Homo sapiens: one gene and its partner. The protein of the gene in region 2 purifies or fractionates together with the protein of the main gene of each other region. This does not show direct contact. Each region holds a gene or a part of one and is shown on either strand. Other genes may lie near its edges.

Region 1 (5,016 bases), on a different chromosome or scaffold from region 2:
GCTGCAGCTCAGCCTGGAAAGGGAGGCTGCTCTCCGGCTGCTCCATCGGGGAGGCTTTGGGAAGCAAAAGTCGAAGCAGAGAGCCCTGGTGGGAAGTGGCAGCTGCGGGTCCGAGACGGGAGTGGTGGTTGGATCCTGGATGTTTGGGAAGGTGGGGCCCCCGGGACTGGCTGACAAACTGGATGTGGGGGTGAGAAGGCGAGGTGGAAGTCGGTCCCCGGGTGTGTCACCCGGAAGGGTGGCGGTGCTGTATGCTGAGGCAGGCGCAGCTGGAAAAAGCAGTCACGGACATGGAAGTCCAGCATTTGGCCTGGAGTTTCCATTTTATGTCACTGCTGCCACCACCCTTCAGGAAGGTTCTAGGGCACCTTGACATTTGAGAGGGAGTGCACAGACCCAGGCATGCTTCCTCTCTGCCCCAAACCTTCTGAAACACAAAAGCAGCGTGGCCTCCATCTGCCTCAGATGGAGCCCAGATGTGATGGGGCAACCCGGGCCTGGCCAGCCGACCATCTGGAAGAGCCTGGCCCCACCTCCTCCCCAGGCCAGGCCCGTCTTGTTGGTGGGATTCTGATTTGTTGTTGTTCTTGCACGCAGGTCCTTCCGAAACTGTCATCTTCCATTATCCACGAGATTGATAGTATTTTGGGCAATAAACCCTACAGCAAAAAGGACTACAGATCCTAAGCCGCCCCCGCCCGCCTGCTCGGACAGTTTCCGTTCCCTCCTAGTCTCTGTTCGCTCGCTTAAGCTGTTTTGAAGCCAAGTGAAGAGTGTGGTTTGCATCCAAGAGAAAACACCACACTGTGATGTCATCGGGAAATGATCTCCCAAGTCGCTGCCAGACACCACCCACTGCTTCGCCGGACAATGTCGAAGTCCAGTCTGTGCCGGGGAAGGCACTGGTTAGGAAGGATGTTCAAACGGTCCCACCCAAGCCTGTCACCTCTGCTCATCCTCCAAGACCACCCAGCTTTCTCCCAGCCACAGCCAAGATTCCCAAAGTCAAGGCCCAAAGATTTCCAAGGTTCCCAAAGTCAAGGCCAGGCCAAGGCCTGGTTGGGTCCTTGGGGCGGGCAGGGCCAGCCTCTCCTCTGCTGAGAATCCCCACTTGGTGTAGGGGGAGAGGGGAAAGGGGTCTGGCCCATCGAGGGGCCCCTTCTGCCAGGGCCTTGGTTGCTGGGGCAGGGCCTCCCCACTGGGGGTCTTCCTCCACCTCCCACTTTCCAAGGGCTCCAGGAATCTGGGGCCTGACCACAGATTCCTCTCCCATCCTTTTCTGCTCCAACCTGCCCCACTGGGTCCCGGCAGGGGCCATGCCTACCAAGCTCGAGCTGGCCCTTGACCCCCACCCACCCCCACCCTTGCTGGCAGGGGCAGGGACCCCAGGGGGATTGACTCTGCAGTTTGGGAGCCACAAAAAGCGTAGCGGTGTGATTTCTAGCTCAGCCTCCCACCGTCTTCCTCCTACACACCAATGATGAGCCTCATGCCAGTGAGGCCCGGAGCGCTTGGGAGGGGTCCCAGTGGGGCAGGCCCCTCTGTCTGGCCACCCCTCTGTCCTGGCCCCGGAAGGCCCTGTGGTCATGTGCTCCTAGCTGCACGGTGGCTGCTGGCCACACCACGGCAAGTGGCAGCAGGGGCCGGCCCTGTGCACAAGGATGCACTCCTCTCGGCCCCTGTAGACTTTCTCTAAAGCCGCCCGCCAGCCCAGGCCGCTGCTCTGCACCGAGCTGGTGGGCTTGGGTTTTGTGGAGCGCATGCTTGGACCCTTTCAGTAAGGAAGGGTCTTTGGGGTTTTCTGTGCCCATGACTTGGGGGCTGCACCCCCACAGCACCCCCACAATGTAGGAAAAGACCTCAGGGAACCTCTCCCTGGAAAGACGGGCAGGGCTGGTTAGCCCCTCCCACTGCCTGACACCTGGGACAGGCTGGGCAGAGGGGAGAGAGGGCAGGACAGGCCAGAGTGACGCCCCCGTGCAGCTTGGGCCGGAGGGCAAGGGATGCCAGTAAGTCTGCAGGTGCGGGGTGCCACCTACAGGCCCAGGCCTGTGTCCCAAGCAGTACCCAGGCTTTGCAGACCACGCGGGGCAGGGCTCCACTGAAGCCACCCCCACCCCTCGCCAGCTAGCTCCATAGGGAAGCCTGTGTCTCCTGCCCCCAGGGCGCACCCTCAGTGCAGGCACCTCTGTTCCCGCTTTGCCCCTGGAGGAGCCACTATTCCAGAAGGCTCCACCCTGCCGTCCTGCGGGAGCCTGCTGTCCAGTCCTGGCCGGGCCAAGGCCTGGGAAACTGTGAAAGTCAGAAAGGCCAGCGGGGAGAGGCTGGGGCGAGGGGAGGAGGGGGATCAGCTTCTGCTATTACCGACCCCCCTTCATGCTGCCCCTGGCGCCTAGAACCCTTGCCCCTCCTCATAGACCAAGTCCCGGGGGTCTCCACTCAGTCCTGCTGCCTGCTTCACCAGAAGCAGCCCTGTGAGTGTGGGGTGGGGAAGTCCCTTCCCAACGGAGGTCCCAGCCTATGGCCCTGGGCCCAGGTGGGGGTCGCCTGCTTCCTTCCCGGACAGGGTCCTGCAGTGGCCAATGGTGCCAGAGGGCAGGTGGCCCACCCTCGCCATCAGGGAGGGTGGCTGGCCCCATCCCCACTGCCACCCAGCCCCACCCACTGTTGGAAGAGGGACCAGCGCGAGGTGGTGCCCAGGGTGGGCACTGCTGCTTAATGCGAGGCACACCTGGGGCAGCTGAGCCCCCAAAGGCTGCGGGTTTGCCAAACACAGAGAGGCCAGGCCCCAGTGTCAGGATGCAGTCAGCCTCTGGCGCAGCTCTTTCCACGACCTGGTTCCTGGATGTCCTGCTTGCTCCACACCCATCTACAGGGAGGATGTGAGGGGGCTCTGCCTCCTAGGGCCAGGTCCCCCCTCTCGGGAGGAGGTATTGGGTAGGACCATCCAAGAAAGGGCAGAAGACCAAGGGCAGTCGGGGTCTAGAAAGGAGGGCGCTGGCCCTGCTGGACGCTTCGGAGCCCCCACTGTTTCCCACTCAGCTTTGTGCTCAGATCCCAGGTCCCAAGGAGTGACAGGGGCTTCCTCCCACCTTCTGTCCTTGTCCAGTCATGTAAATAATGTGCTTTTTCTCTCCCCGAGTCTTTTTTTTTAAACCTACCGTGGTTCCTCAGCTAACTGCATTCCCTACCCAGGCAGAGACTGTCCTATGCCTCGAGCTTCCAAACGAGACTCAGACCGCGACACAGCCACCGTATTTATGGAATGACAAAATAAATAAAGCCCAAACCCATCGGTCTCTGTGACTTTTTGCTCCTCTCATTTCCTCAGGGTCAGGGCTGGGCCAGGGTGACACGGGAGGGGAGGAAAAGGCTGCCAGCAGCAGGGCCTGGGGCATCCCCCAAACCGGAGCCTGCAGCCAAGGGCAGGTGGGTTGGAAAGGGCCCGTGGAGAGAGAGCGGGGACAGAGAATGGGGACAGGGTGGTCAGAAGACCTGTCCCCCATCTCTCCCAAGCGATTCAGCCAAGGGAGGGTGCGTGCCTCCCCTGCCGCCCCCAACACACACATTCTCTTTCACCAACTCTGAGGGCCCAAAGCTGCTTGCTGGGAGGCTGCTGTCCCTCTGGGGACCTGGCTGGCTGCTGTTCTCATAAGGACAGAGGTCCAGGCCTGGGGAAGCTCTCATGGTATGTGTTTGGGGTACAGGTGAGAGGGGCCTCACCCCAGCACACCCCTGTTTCGGGCTCCCCTCCTTCCCAGTGAGCCCCTGCACCCGTGAAATGACCATCCCAGGCAAGAGAAGGCTTCCGGACACGCCCCCACCCCCCACCACTCCTCCCTGGCCCCAGCCCCCACCCCCATTCTAAATCTTGAATCTTAAAAAGAAAAAGCCTCTGATTAAATCCTTTCCCAAAGGATTTATTAAAACACAGAAAACCAAAACATACACACAGAGTACAAAGTAAAGGTGATTGTGTTGGCTACAGCCTCTGTCCAGCCTCCCGTGGGCGAAGACCAGACAAGCCACGGCTCACAGGGGAGCCTGGCTTCCAAAGCTGGACCCGCCCCCGCCGGGGCCACCCTGGCTGGGACTCCTGGCGCGCCTTGCACCCAGCCCAGGGCCCTCCCTTTGCCAGCCTGGGGCTGTGCCTGGGGAAAGGGGTCGGCCCCCTCTTAGCTGGGCCTGGGCCGGTGGAGTCTGCTCCCTCCACACCCCTGAACTCAGACCCCACGGGCCAGTGGGGACCCTCCCTTCCTCTCCAGGGGTGCTTGGGCTCCAATCGCTGCTTGAGGAGTTCAGGACACACACACACACCCAACGGGCCCTTTCTGGGTTATCGCACCTAAAAAAATACTTTGTTTAAAAAAAAAATCTGAAAATTAAAGAAAAAAAAAACACAACGCCAGTGAGTTTGGGCTGATGCACCACAACCTGTAAACTTTCAGACACAGAAAACAGGACAGGAACCAGCTGCCGAGGCCGAGGCGGGCCTTGCACAGAAGAGACTTGGGGGAGGGGCCGAGGCCAGGTCACCAAGACGGTGAGGGCAGAGGGGCGTGCCAGCCTCGGCCCCCACCCACGCCCTGTCCCCTGCCCACAGACCCTGACGCACACTGGAGGCTCCAAGTGACCGACACTTGACCAAGTCCATCTGGCTTCTGGCTCCCATGTACCCGAGCCCACTCTCCACTCCACCTCCTTGGGCCTCAAGTGTCCTGGGATGACAGGAGTGAGGGCTGCAGGTGTCACCGGGCCAAGGCTTGGTCAGCTCCTGACCTCGGCAGGGGAGCACCCGGGGGACTCTGGGAAGGCAGCCCCCAAAAGCAGGAGGACTTCAATCATAGGGGGCAGGGAAAGTCCAGCCTGCCCCTGGGGGAAGCCAAGTTTGCAAAAAACGCAGGAGCTTCGGAAGGTGGCTTTCACGGGGGACGCTGCTTCTGCCTCAGGCGTGTATGAGAGGGCCCTGCAGACGTGCTCACTCCACCCCGAGTCACCTGAGCCCATGGGGCAATG
Region 2 (9,285 bases):
AAGGGGTGAATGAGGGGACCAGAGAAGGGAGTTGGGCCAGGCAGAACGCTGTGTTTGGACAGAGGAGCTTCCACTTGGAACACGCTGAAGAACCAAAGCTCGAGGGCAGAGCCTTGCCCAGAGTGAGATGGTGAGAGGAGGGACACGGGCTCAGACTCATCACCCCTGCTTCTCACTGGCTCTGAGTGGTTTGGATTCCACAGTGGAAAGCTCAAGAGTGGGGTGGGTCATTCTAGGGAGGGTGTTCCGTGCTTGTGCACAAGTGTTGTGTTCTCTCAGTAAGAGGTAAGGGAGCTGACGACTCGCCACCCTGTCCTCAGAGCAGGGGCCTGTGGGTGACAGGACCATGAGGAGAACCATTTTCAGAGGTTACACAGAGAAAGAGGAAAACTTCAGGGATCGTATTACCAGAATGATGACAAGTGCACACACACACACACACACACACAGCAAAATAAAAATGTAAAGAAGCCTGGAAGACAGATCATTTATGTCATTTATATACCTGGAATAGGTACATTTTAGAACCTAGGGCAGAGGTCAGAATATAAATGGTTATCACACAATGCTTCACATTATCTGTGCTCATCTTGTGGGCACATACGTCCATTCTTAGGTGGTTCTTCCCATGGATGCCCCCCACGTACTCCTGACCTGTTGCAGATCATGTGTTCCACTGGAAGGCCAGCGTGGGCCCAGGAGGATGGGGCCCCTGGGGTCTAGTCCTGGTTGTTGGTTTCCAGGAGCTCTCCATCTCTTGGCTTTCCTTTGACTTCACCTACAACCCCTCAGCCTCCTATGCTGGCTGCCCTTCCTCCTGACCTTGACCGGTAGATTGAAGACTGCTGTGAAGGACTTGGTCCTGGTCATTTCTCCTCGTTGTCCATATTCTGTTTCTGCAGAAGACCTTGGTGCCATGAATGTATATATTTCTAGATGTCTTAAATTCATAAATCGTAAGTTTCTTTTTCATATTCCAGACCTAAATAAATAACTGCCTCCTTGATGTCTTAATTTGCATGTATAATTTCCCTCTCCAATGTAAAACATCTAAAGGTGAGGTCTTGACGCATCCCAACTTGTTTAACCCCTTGTCTTCCCTTTCTCAGTAAAGGGCGACACCTACCTGCCTAGTTGCTTGAGCTTGGCATTGGCTGCTTATTTCTCATGTTTTATTGATGACTAATTCCTGCTGATTCTATCATCTAAACATACCTCCTCAGTTCTCCTCACCTCCTCTCCACTCTATCTCTACTGACTCTACCTTTCTCTGGCCCAAGTCACCATCATCTTTTCCCCAGACGACTGCAATTTCCTGGTCTTTCTATTTCTTCTTCTACCTCTTCATAATTCATTCCCCTCCCAGCCTCTAAGTAAATCACATCACGTCTCTCCTCTGCTTGAAAACCATCATTGGCTTCATACCGCCCTTAAGATAAAACCTGAACACCTCACCCTATAAGATGGTACCCTTGCTAATTCTTCAATCTTATCTTGCACCTCCCTTTCCCTTGCCCATTCTCCTCCCAGCGCACGGCCTTCTTTTTGACCTTGAACACCCATGACCTTTCTAGCTCAGGGCTTTTGCACTTGTCAGTCTGGAATGCTCTTCCCTGCATTTGGCACTGTGGCCCCATTCTCTTATCTATTTTTGAGACAGAATCTCCCTCTGTCACCCAGGCTGGAGTGCAGTGGTACAATCTCGGCTCACTGCAACCTCCACCTCCCAGGTTAAAGCGATCCTCCTGCCTCAACCTCCCAAGTAGCTGGGACTACACGTGCCCTCCACCATGCCCAGATAATTTTTGCATTTTTAGTAGAGACAGAGTTTTGCCATGTTGGTCAGACTGGTCTTGAACTCCTAACCTCAGGTGATCCACCTGCCTCAGCCTCCCAAAGTGCTGGGATTACAGGCATGAGCCACCGTGCCAGGCTCCATTCTCCTCTTTGGATTGTCAGTTGAAATACTACCTCTTCAGAGGGAACTTTTCCAGCTACCCTTGCAAAGTTGAGTCCCCAAGTTCATTTCTGACATGGCATCCCATTTATCCTCCTCAAGGCATTTACTGCAATATGGAATTATTTTCCTTATTGTCTACTGTTAAAATTTTCTGTCTATAATGTAATTTATTACATGAAAATGTATGCTTATCAAAGCAGATATTTTGTATAGATCACTGCTAAATCCTCAGCACCTGGCACCATGCTGGCACTCAGTAGCTGCTCAATATATACTTTTTAAATAAATGAATGATTGCTATGACCATGGCAAACATCTGAATCTGGATACAACAACAAAAAATAACAACAAAATCTGTGCTGGCATGAAATTGGTGCTTGGTGAATGCTGGGGAAAAATCCCCTGCCATTGGAAGCCACTTGGCAGTGTTTATGGATGGAGCTGTGTCTTCCTTCACCTGGGAACTGGCATTTCTGAAGGTGTGATTGTACTCATCCTTAACATACGCTTGGGGGGAATGATCTAGGCATAGGGTTTTTCTTAAGCTAAGAAATGAGTCTATTTCACAAAAGAACTAAAAACAGAACTCTGATTCATGAATTTGCCAATGGCTTGTCCTTCTCAGGGGAACCTCCCTGGGCACAGTGAAACCCTTCTTGGGGCACGACCTCATGCTTGATGTGAAGGTCATCACAGAACATCAGCTCTGCCTGAAGGGTGGCCGGCAGCCCAGTCAGGCTTAACCCGAGGGGTACTCAAACGGAGGTTCTTGACACCTTATCAGGGTGTGTACGCTTCTGCAGAACGAAGGTTCCTTCCCATGCTTTGCCAGGATTGGTTTTGAAGAATTACTGACCTAGTTGACAGTCTCGTGAATAAAAATGGCAATGATGAAAACAAACCTGCAAATGAATCATTCATTATGAATTTGAAAACAAAAACAAAAAGAATCAGGGGTTAGTCAATTTATGACTCAGAAAATAATGACAGATAACTGGATAAGGGTAAAGTGACAGATAACTGGATGGGGGTAAAGAGTATCTTCTATAGTGTATTTGCTGTTGGTTTCCTTTTTTTTCTTTTCTTTCAAAAAGATTTTTTAAACAGAGCAACTTTTGTGTGGAGTCTAAATGGCTTAATTACATAGTCTGTAAGTGAGAAAACTCCGCTGGATGACTCCATGTACTTGCTTTCTCTCCCTTCACGGAAACATGCAAGGTGAGAGAAAGGAGTGGAAATGAGACAGGCAAGCATGAGATGGGCAAGCTGGCTGCTTTCCTGTTGTGATGTGGTTTGGAGAAAAAAGAACAAAAGCCCTTTACTCAAGCTGTAACTCCCAGCCAGTCAGCATCAAAGGCCCAAGAAGCTATTAACCACAAATTAATTAACCCCTTGCTTTAGAGAACTAAGGACCTTTCTGAGGCCCTACGTGCCTAGCTAGGCTTAACTTTCACCTCATCATGAACTTTTCCTTATTTTAGTACTAAAAATCATGCCCACAGGTGGAGATTTAAGATGCTAATGAGACATATGTTGTATGAAGCAGCATCTTAAGCCACCGTACATGTGCCCGAAAAACCTCACCTCTACATGCCCTGACTTCCCCTTACTGCAGACCTCCACAAAGGGAACCCACACCTTGACTTTGGAGAGCAACCCACTTCCTTTCTTGGTGTTTGGTCCCTTATGTCCATAAGCTTTCATAAAATCTTTCTCTTTGCTACTGTATGCTGTGATCTCTTTTGATTTCTATCCTGGGGGATCAAAAAAGCCCACAGGGCGTTGGTGCCAGAAATCAGCTGTGCAAGCACAGAAAGGGAGCAGAGGCTGTTGCCTGGCTCAACTGGTGAGGAGCAAGACTGGAGAATGAGCATGCAGTGAGTTCTAATACTAGCACATTTCTTACCCACTCAACACCTGATCCCTTCCCGACACATCCAGGAGCCTTGGTTCTCTCCTTCCTCCAACTCTCTGAGAGTGAATGCTGCTGAGAACCACTGTGGTTTTAAAATACTCCGTGCAATACAAAGAACTCTCAGATGCATCCTGTGGTTTGAGAGCACCTTTATGTGTCATTCTCATCATTAACCTCAATGAATGCATACTAATGATCTAATATGCACCAGAAGCTACACAAAAACACTTTGTAGTTGTTAGCCAATTCATTTTGGCTACAGCCAGCCAGAAAAGAGGAAACTGAGGCACAGAGAAGCAAATGTCAACCCTACCTGGAAGTGTCAGTCTGAAAAGATCAGTTGAGTCTTCCTCTACCAGACCCCAACTTGTCTGGTCTCGTGAAGAAAGACAGAAATGGATGGAAAACCATTCTTATCACCTTCTTGCTGGAGAGTTAGGGAAGAGTCAGCTGGTCCCTAACAACAAACTTTGCCCTACTCCAGTACTGCCAAAGGGGTCTTTGTTGTAACATGGCCTACAAGGAGAGGACATCTTTCTGGGAAAGCACCTAGAATGTGGCTGGCACATATTCAATGCCCAGTAAATGTAGCTATTATTTTTTCAATCAACACTCTTACATACCCCTTTTCCACTCACCCTCTTCTCCCTTTTTTTGGTCACCCAATAAGCAGAAATTCCAGATGCATCCTTCGGGGTGGTTGGGAGCAAAGGATCCCCAGGGTGCACTGTGCCCTGGGCTGAGGTATCTCTGAGGTGCTTCCATCTTCTGGGTCCTTCCTCACTGGGGTTGTTGCCTCAGGCTCTCAGGACTCCCCTGGAAATCTTCTGATGGGAAAGGCATTGATTGACTTGCCACCCTTTCTCTACCATCCCTTTGCAATTCTGGGAGAGTTGCAGCCCCGCCCTCCCAGGCTTGCAAAGGTAGACGGAGAATTATATTGGAATTTAAATCGGAAGCTCTCAAGGCATCTCAAAAATACTTTCTCTATTTTTTTTTTCCTGTAGATATTGGAGAGGTTGGCAAACGGGTCTTCCTGAAGACAGAAGAATGTATGATTTAATGTTTTCTTTAGATTTCTGTATGAGTGGATGCACAGTGCTCCGTATTGTGTGGTGGGGCGGGGTGTGTCTTCTTATTGATGAAATACACTGCGCAGGTCAACTCGGTAAATTGAAATGAGAAGAGCCGACTGCGGGGGTGGAGGGGGTGTGGTATTAGGGTGCCGGCGCTTGTGGAGGGGGGCGCGAATGTGAACGTGTGAAAGCGAGAGGCGTGCCAGGAGAGCGCGGGAAAGCTTACTGGTGAGGCAAGTGTGCGTCTATTTCCATGGCGCCCTGGCTCGCGGCAGCCCCTGGCTGGGCGAGGGGTGTGATGTGGGAGTGGGGTGGGAGGGGGCAGCAGGCGGGGCCTGCCACGTCACTTGGAGAGTGTGTGTTGGGAAGGAAGGGCAGAGCGGAGAGCCGAGCCGCTGCAGCTGCGGCGGCGGCAGCGAAGCCTTGAGCCGTGGGGAGGTGGGTCCCCGCGCTCGGGCGCCGGGGCAGCCCCGGGCCCTCTGCGAGGCCTGCGGCGCGGCTCCTAGGGAGGAGGTGGCGGCTGTGGCGGCCGGAACCGCGACCTTGGCCGGACCCAGCCCCGCGGTGGACGCAGGGCGGAGGCCGAGCCCCGCCAGGAGTCTTTGCCGAGCCGGAGGGAGGCGCATCTGGCGCTTCGGTACCAGCGGCAGCCGGGGGTCCGGAGCGGCTGGAGGAGCGCAGTGGGAACTGGGAAGAGCTAGCCCGGCTGGAGGGCGGACCTCTGCGTCCGGGAGCCGGGTCTCAGGCACCGCTGGGGGCGAAGCCACGCGTCTTTTCGGGCAGCCAATTTCACACGCGCCTGTGTGCGGTTCCGGGCATCCCAGTAAGCTCTAGCACCCGGGCGCGGGTAACGGGAAGCGCAGAACCAAATCCCCAGCGCCCAGGTCACCTCCCCAGACCCAGCCTTGCAGGGACCAGGGCTTTAGGGCTCACGGACCCAACGGCCAGGTCAGACCGCGAACCGGGAGGAGCGCGGGCCCCACCCTAAAGAGGGCGCAGCCGGGAGCTGGGGAGCGGGTGCCGCGCTCCAGAGATTGTGTCGTGGGCGCCGTCCTAGTGGCGGGGAGCGCACCTCCGAGGGGGCATGAGATCGGAGAAATCCCTTACGCTGGCGGCGCCGGGGGAGGTCCGTGGGCCGGAGGGAGAGCAACAGGATGCGGGAGACTTCCCGGAGGCCGGCGGGGGCGGGGGCTGCTGTAGTAGCGAGCGGCTGGTGATCAATATCTCCGGGCTGCGCTTTGAGACACAATTGCGCACCCTGTCGCTGTTTCCGGACACGCTGCTCGGAGACCCTGGCCGGCGAGTCCGCTTCTTCGACCCCCTGAGGAACGAGTACTTCTTCGACCGCAACCGGCCCAGCTTCGACGCCATCCTCTACTACTACCAGTCTGGGGGCCGCCTGCGGAGGCCGGTCAACGTGCCCCTGGACATTTTCCTGGAGGAGATCCGCTTCTACCAGCTGGGGGACGAGGCCCTGGCGGCCTTCCGGGAGGACGAGGGCTGCCTGCCCGAAGGTGGCGAGGACGAGAAGCCGCTGCCCTCCCAGCCCTTCCAGCGCCAGGTGTGGCTGCTCTTTGAGTACCCAGAGAGCTCTGGGCCGGCCAGGGGCATCGCCATCGTCTCCGTGTTGGTCATTCTCATCTCCATAGTCATCTTTTGCCTGGAGACCTTACCCCAGTTCCGTGTAGATGGTCGAGGTGGAAACAATGGTGGTGTGAGTCGAGTCTCCCCAGTTTCCAGGGGGAGTCAGGAGGAAGAGGAGGATGAAGACGATTCCTACACATTTCATCATGGCATCACCCCTGGGGAAATGGGGACCGGGGGCTCCTCCTCACTCAGTACTCTTGGGGGCTCCTTCTTTACAGACCCCTTCTTTCTGGTGGAGACGCTGTGCATTGTCTGGTTCACTTTTGAGCTCCTGGTGCGCTTCTCCGCCTGCCCTAGCAAGCCGGCCTTCTTCCGGAACATCATGAACATCATTGACTTGGTGGCTATCTTCCCCTACTTCATCACCCTGGGCACTGAGCTGGTGCAGCAGCAGGAGCAGCAACCAGCCAGTGGAGGAGGCGGCCAGAATGGGCAGCAGGCCATGTCCCTGGCCATCCTCCGAGTCATCCGCCTGGTCCGGGTGTTCCGCATCTTCAAGCTCTCCCGCCACTCCAAGGGGCTGCAGATCCTGGGCAAGACCTTGCAGGCCTCCATGAGGGAGCTGGGGCTGCTCATCTTCTTCCTCTTCATCGGGGTCATCCTCTTCTCCAGTGCCGTCTACTTCGCAGAGGCTGACGATGACGATTCGCTTTTTCCCAGCATCCCGGATGCCTTCTGGTGGGCAGTGGTTACAATGACCACGGTAGGTTACGGGGACATGTACCCCATGACTGTGGGGGGAAAGATCGTGGGCTCGCTGTGTGCCATCGCTGGGGTCCTCACCATTGCCCTGCCTGTGCCCGTCATCGTCTCCAACTTCAACTACTTCTACCACCGGGAGACGGAGCAGGAGGAGCAAGGCCAGTATACCCACGTCACTTGTGGGCAGCCTGCGCCGGACCTGAGGGCAACTGACAACGGACTTGGCAAGCCTGACTTCCCCGAGGCTAACCGGGAACGGAGACCCAGCTACCTTCCTACACCACATCGGGCCTATGCAGAGAAAAGAATGCTCACGGAGGTCTGACCCATGCAGGCAGGGCCTGCAGGAGGGGAGCACTGAGCTAACAGTCTCTTAGGCTTCCTTCTCATTTCCACTACTCACTCTAGCTTCAGTTGACTTCTTGACTCTCTCCCCTACACCCACTACCTGGCATCCAGGACCAAATACCTGGACTATCAACCTTGTTGCTTAATCCCTGCAGCATTCAAGGTTAATCCATCTAAGTGACATTTTTGAAATTCCAGCGGTGCCACCCAATCATGCCCAGCTTCTGTCATATGAATGAGATATACATTTATGTCTGACCTTCCCTCAAGACTGATTTTTCATGTCTGGGACTTACAATATCTCAAGGAACAGCAATGTCAACAGGATGGAAACCAGCCCTATCTGAGTCTTCGCTCCCTCCTTAGTGTTCTTTGCTTTGGGTCATGTGCGTTTCCTAGCTTCAGGCTACTTGGTAACTGGAAGAAGCTGGAGGACAGAAGCAGTACTCAACTTGCTGTTATTCCAGTGCCCTGTAACAATCACTGGTCCTCCTGCAGATGACCCTTGGTAGAGTCTTTATTTGCATAGCCTCAAAATAGGTTATTCGTTTCTAAACTTGGATGGAATTAGAGAATACAATCAAACTTTACCACTTGGAGGACACGGGGTTAGTCCAGGACCAAAGAGGCCAATGGATTTTTCAAAGTGTGCCCCAGCACAAGAGGCACTGGTGTTCGGTCTACATTTAGTTCTCCCCACTCTGATCCCCTGACTCTCCAGCTTCCAGGAAGGTTCCTTCTCAGAGCCAAATACTCTTTGTGCAAGTGCCTTCCTGAGCAGAAGAACTGGAGAAAGGGAACCACAGAGCCAGGAGGAATGTCTGAGCAGAGTCAAGCAACTGGCTTGACCACAGTCTGAAGCAAGGTGCCACTTAAACAGATACTGTTTTCTCAAAGGGGCAGAGGAATCGTGTTGCAGATGGCAGCCTTTTCTCCTTCATTTTCCCCACATTTTCTCTGGCCCTCTACCTTGCTTCCTGGGAGTTTGATTTAGGATTGCTGTTGAAGGCTTCCTCAGGCAAACTCCAGCTTAAAGCCCTAGACAGGTAAAAGCACACATTGGATGGCAGCATGGGTTTCTTCCCATTTTATGGGCATGAAATATGTGGTTTAGAATAAGGAACAAGCATTATTCCTTTGCCAACAGCCTCACTCTAAGAGGCTTTTTTGCTGAGTCAAGCAAACACTTGCCTGCTCTGCCCCTTGGAGCTGCATTTGACCTGCTCTCACTGGTAAGGTGACTTGGTGGCGTTCCCACTTGATTTAGCCATTTTCTTCCATTGTGAGACCACTGCCATCTATCCACCTGCCCACCTCCCCTTTTGTTTCTCAGTAACATTGCCATTTGTTTTTTGCCTTTGATAAACTGTGATGTACTGTTCTGAGATCTTTTGGGTGCAGTTCTGAAACTGAAAGGACTGTTAACATGTTTTTAATTTTATATCTATGCTTTCAGACTCTTTGATGATAATTTTTTTTTTAAAAATTATTCTCTCGAAGAGCAACTTACGAGAGGACAGCCTTATGAGGGTTTGCTTGAGAGGCAGTGTGGCTTCTGTGACTGCCAGCTCTAAATCTCGATCTTGCCATAACTTTACAGGGTAACTTGGGTCCACAGTCACTCTTTGTGCCTCAGT

Evidence for each region. The genes of interacting proteins can lie anywhere in the genome.
Region 1: the proteins of KCNA6 (region 2) and KCNAB2 purify together in Homo sapiens (affinity purification with mass spectrometry; 3 studies listed by BioGRID and IntAct, with this or other methods). This does not show direct contact.

The regions. Positions count from the first base shown.
Region 1 is NC_000001.11:6,097,888-6,102,903, forward strand, and holds the end of KCNAB2 (voltage-gated potassium channel subunit beta-2), read left to right. Parts: intron 1-597; coding exon 598-687; 3' UTR 688-3,293; downstream 3,294-5,016.
Region 2 is NC_000012.12:4,804,007-4,813,291, forward strand, and holds the start of KCNA6 (potassium voltage-gated channel subfamily A member 6), read left to right. Parts: upstream 1-5,327; 5' UTR 5,328-6,035; coding exon 6,036-7,625; 3' UTR 7,626-9,285. UniProt on the Homo sapiens protein: Voltage-gated potassium channel that mediates transmembrane potassium transport in excitable membranes. Forms tetrameric potassium-selective channels through which potassium ions pass in accordance with their electrochemical gradient.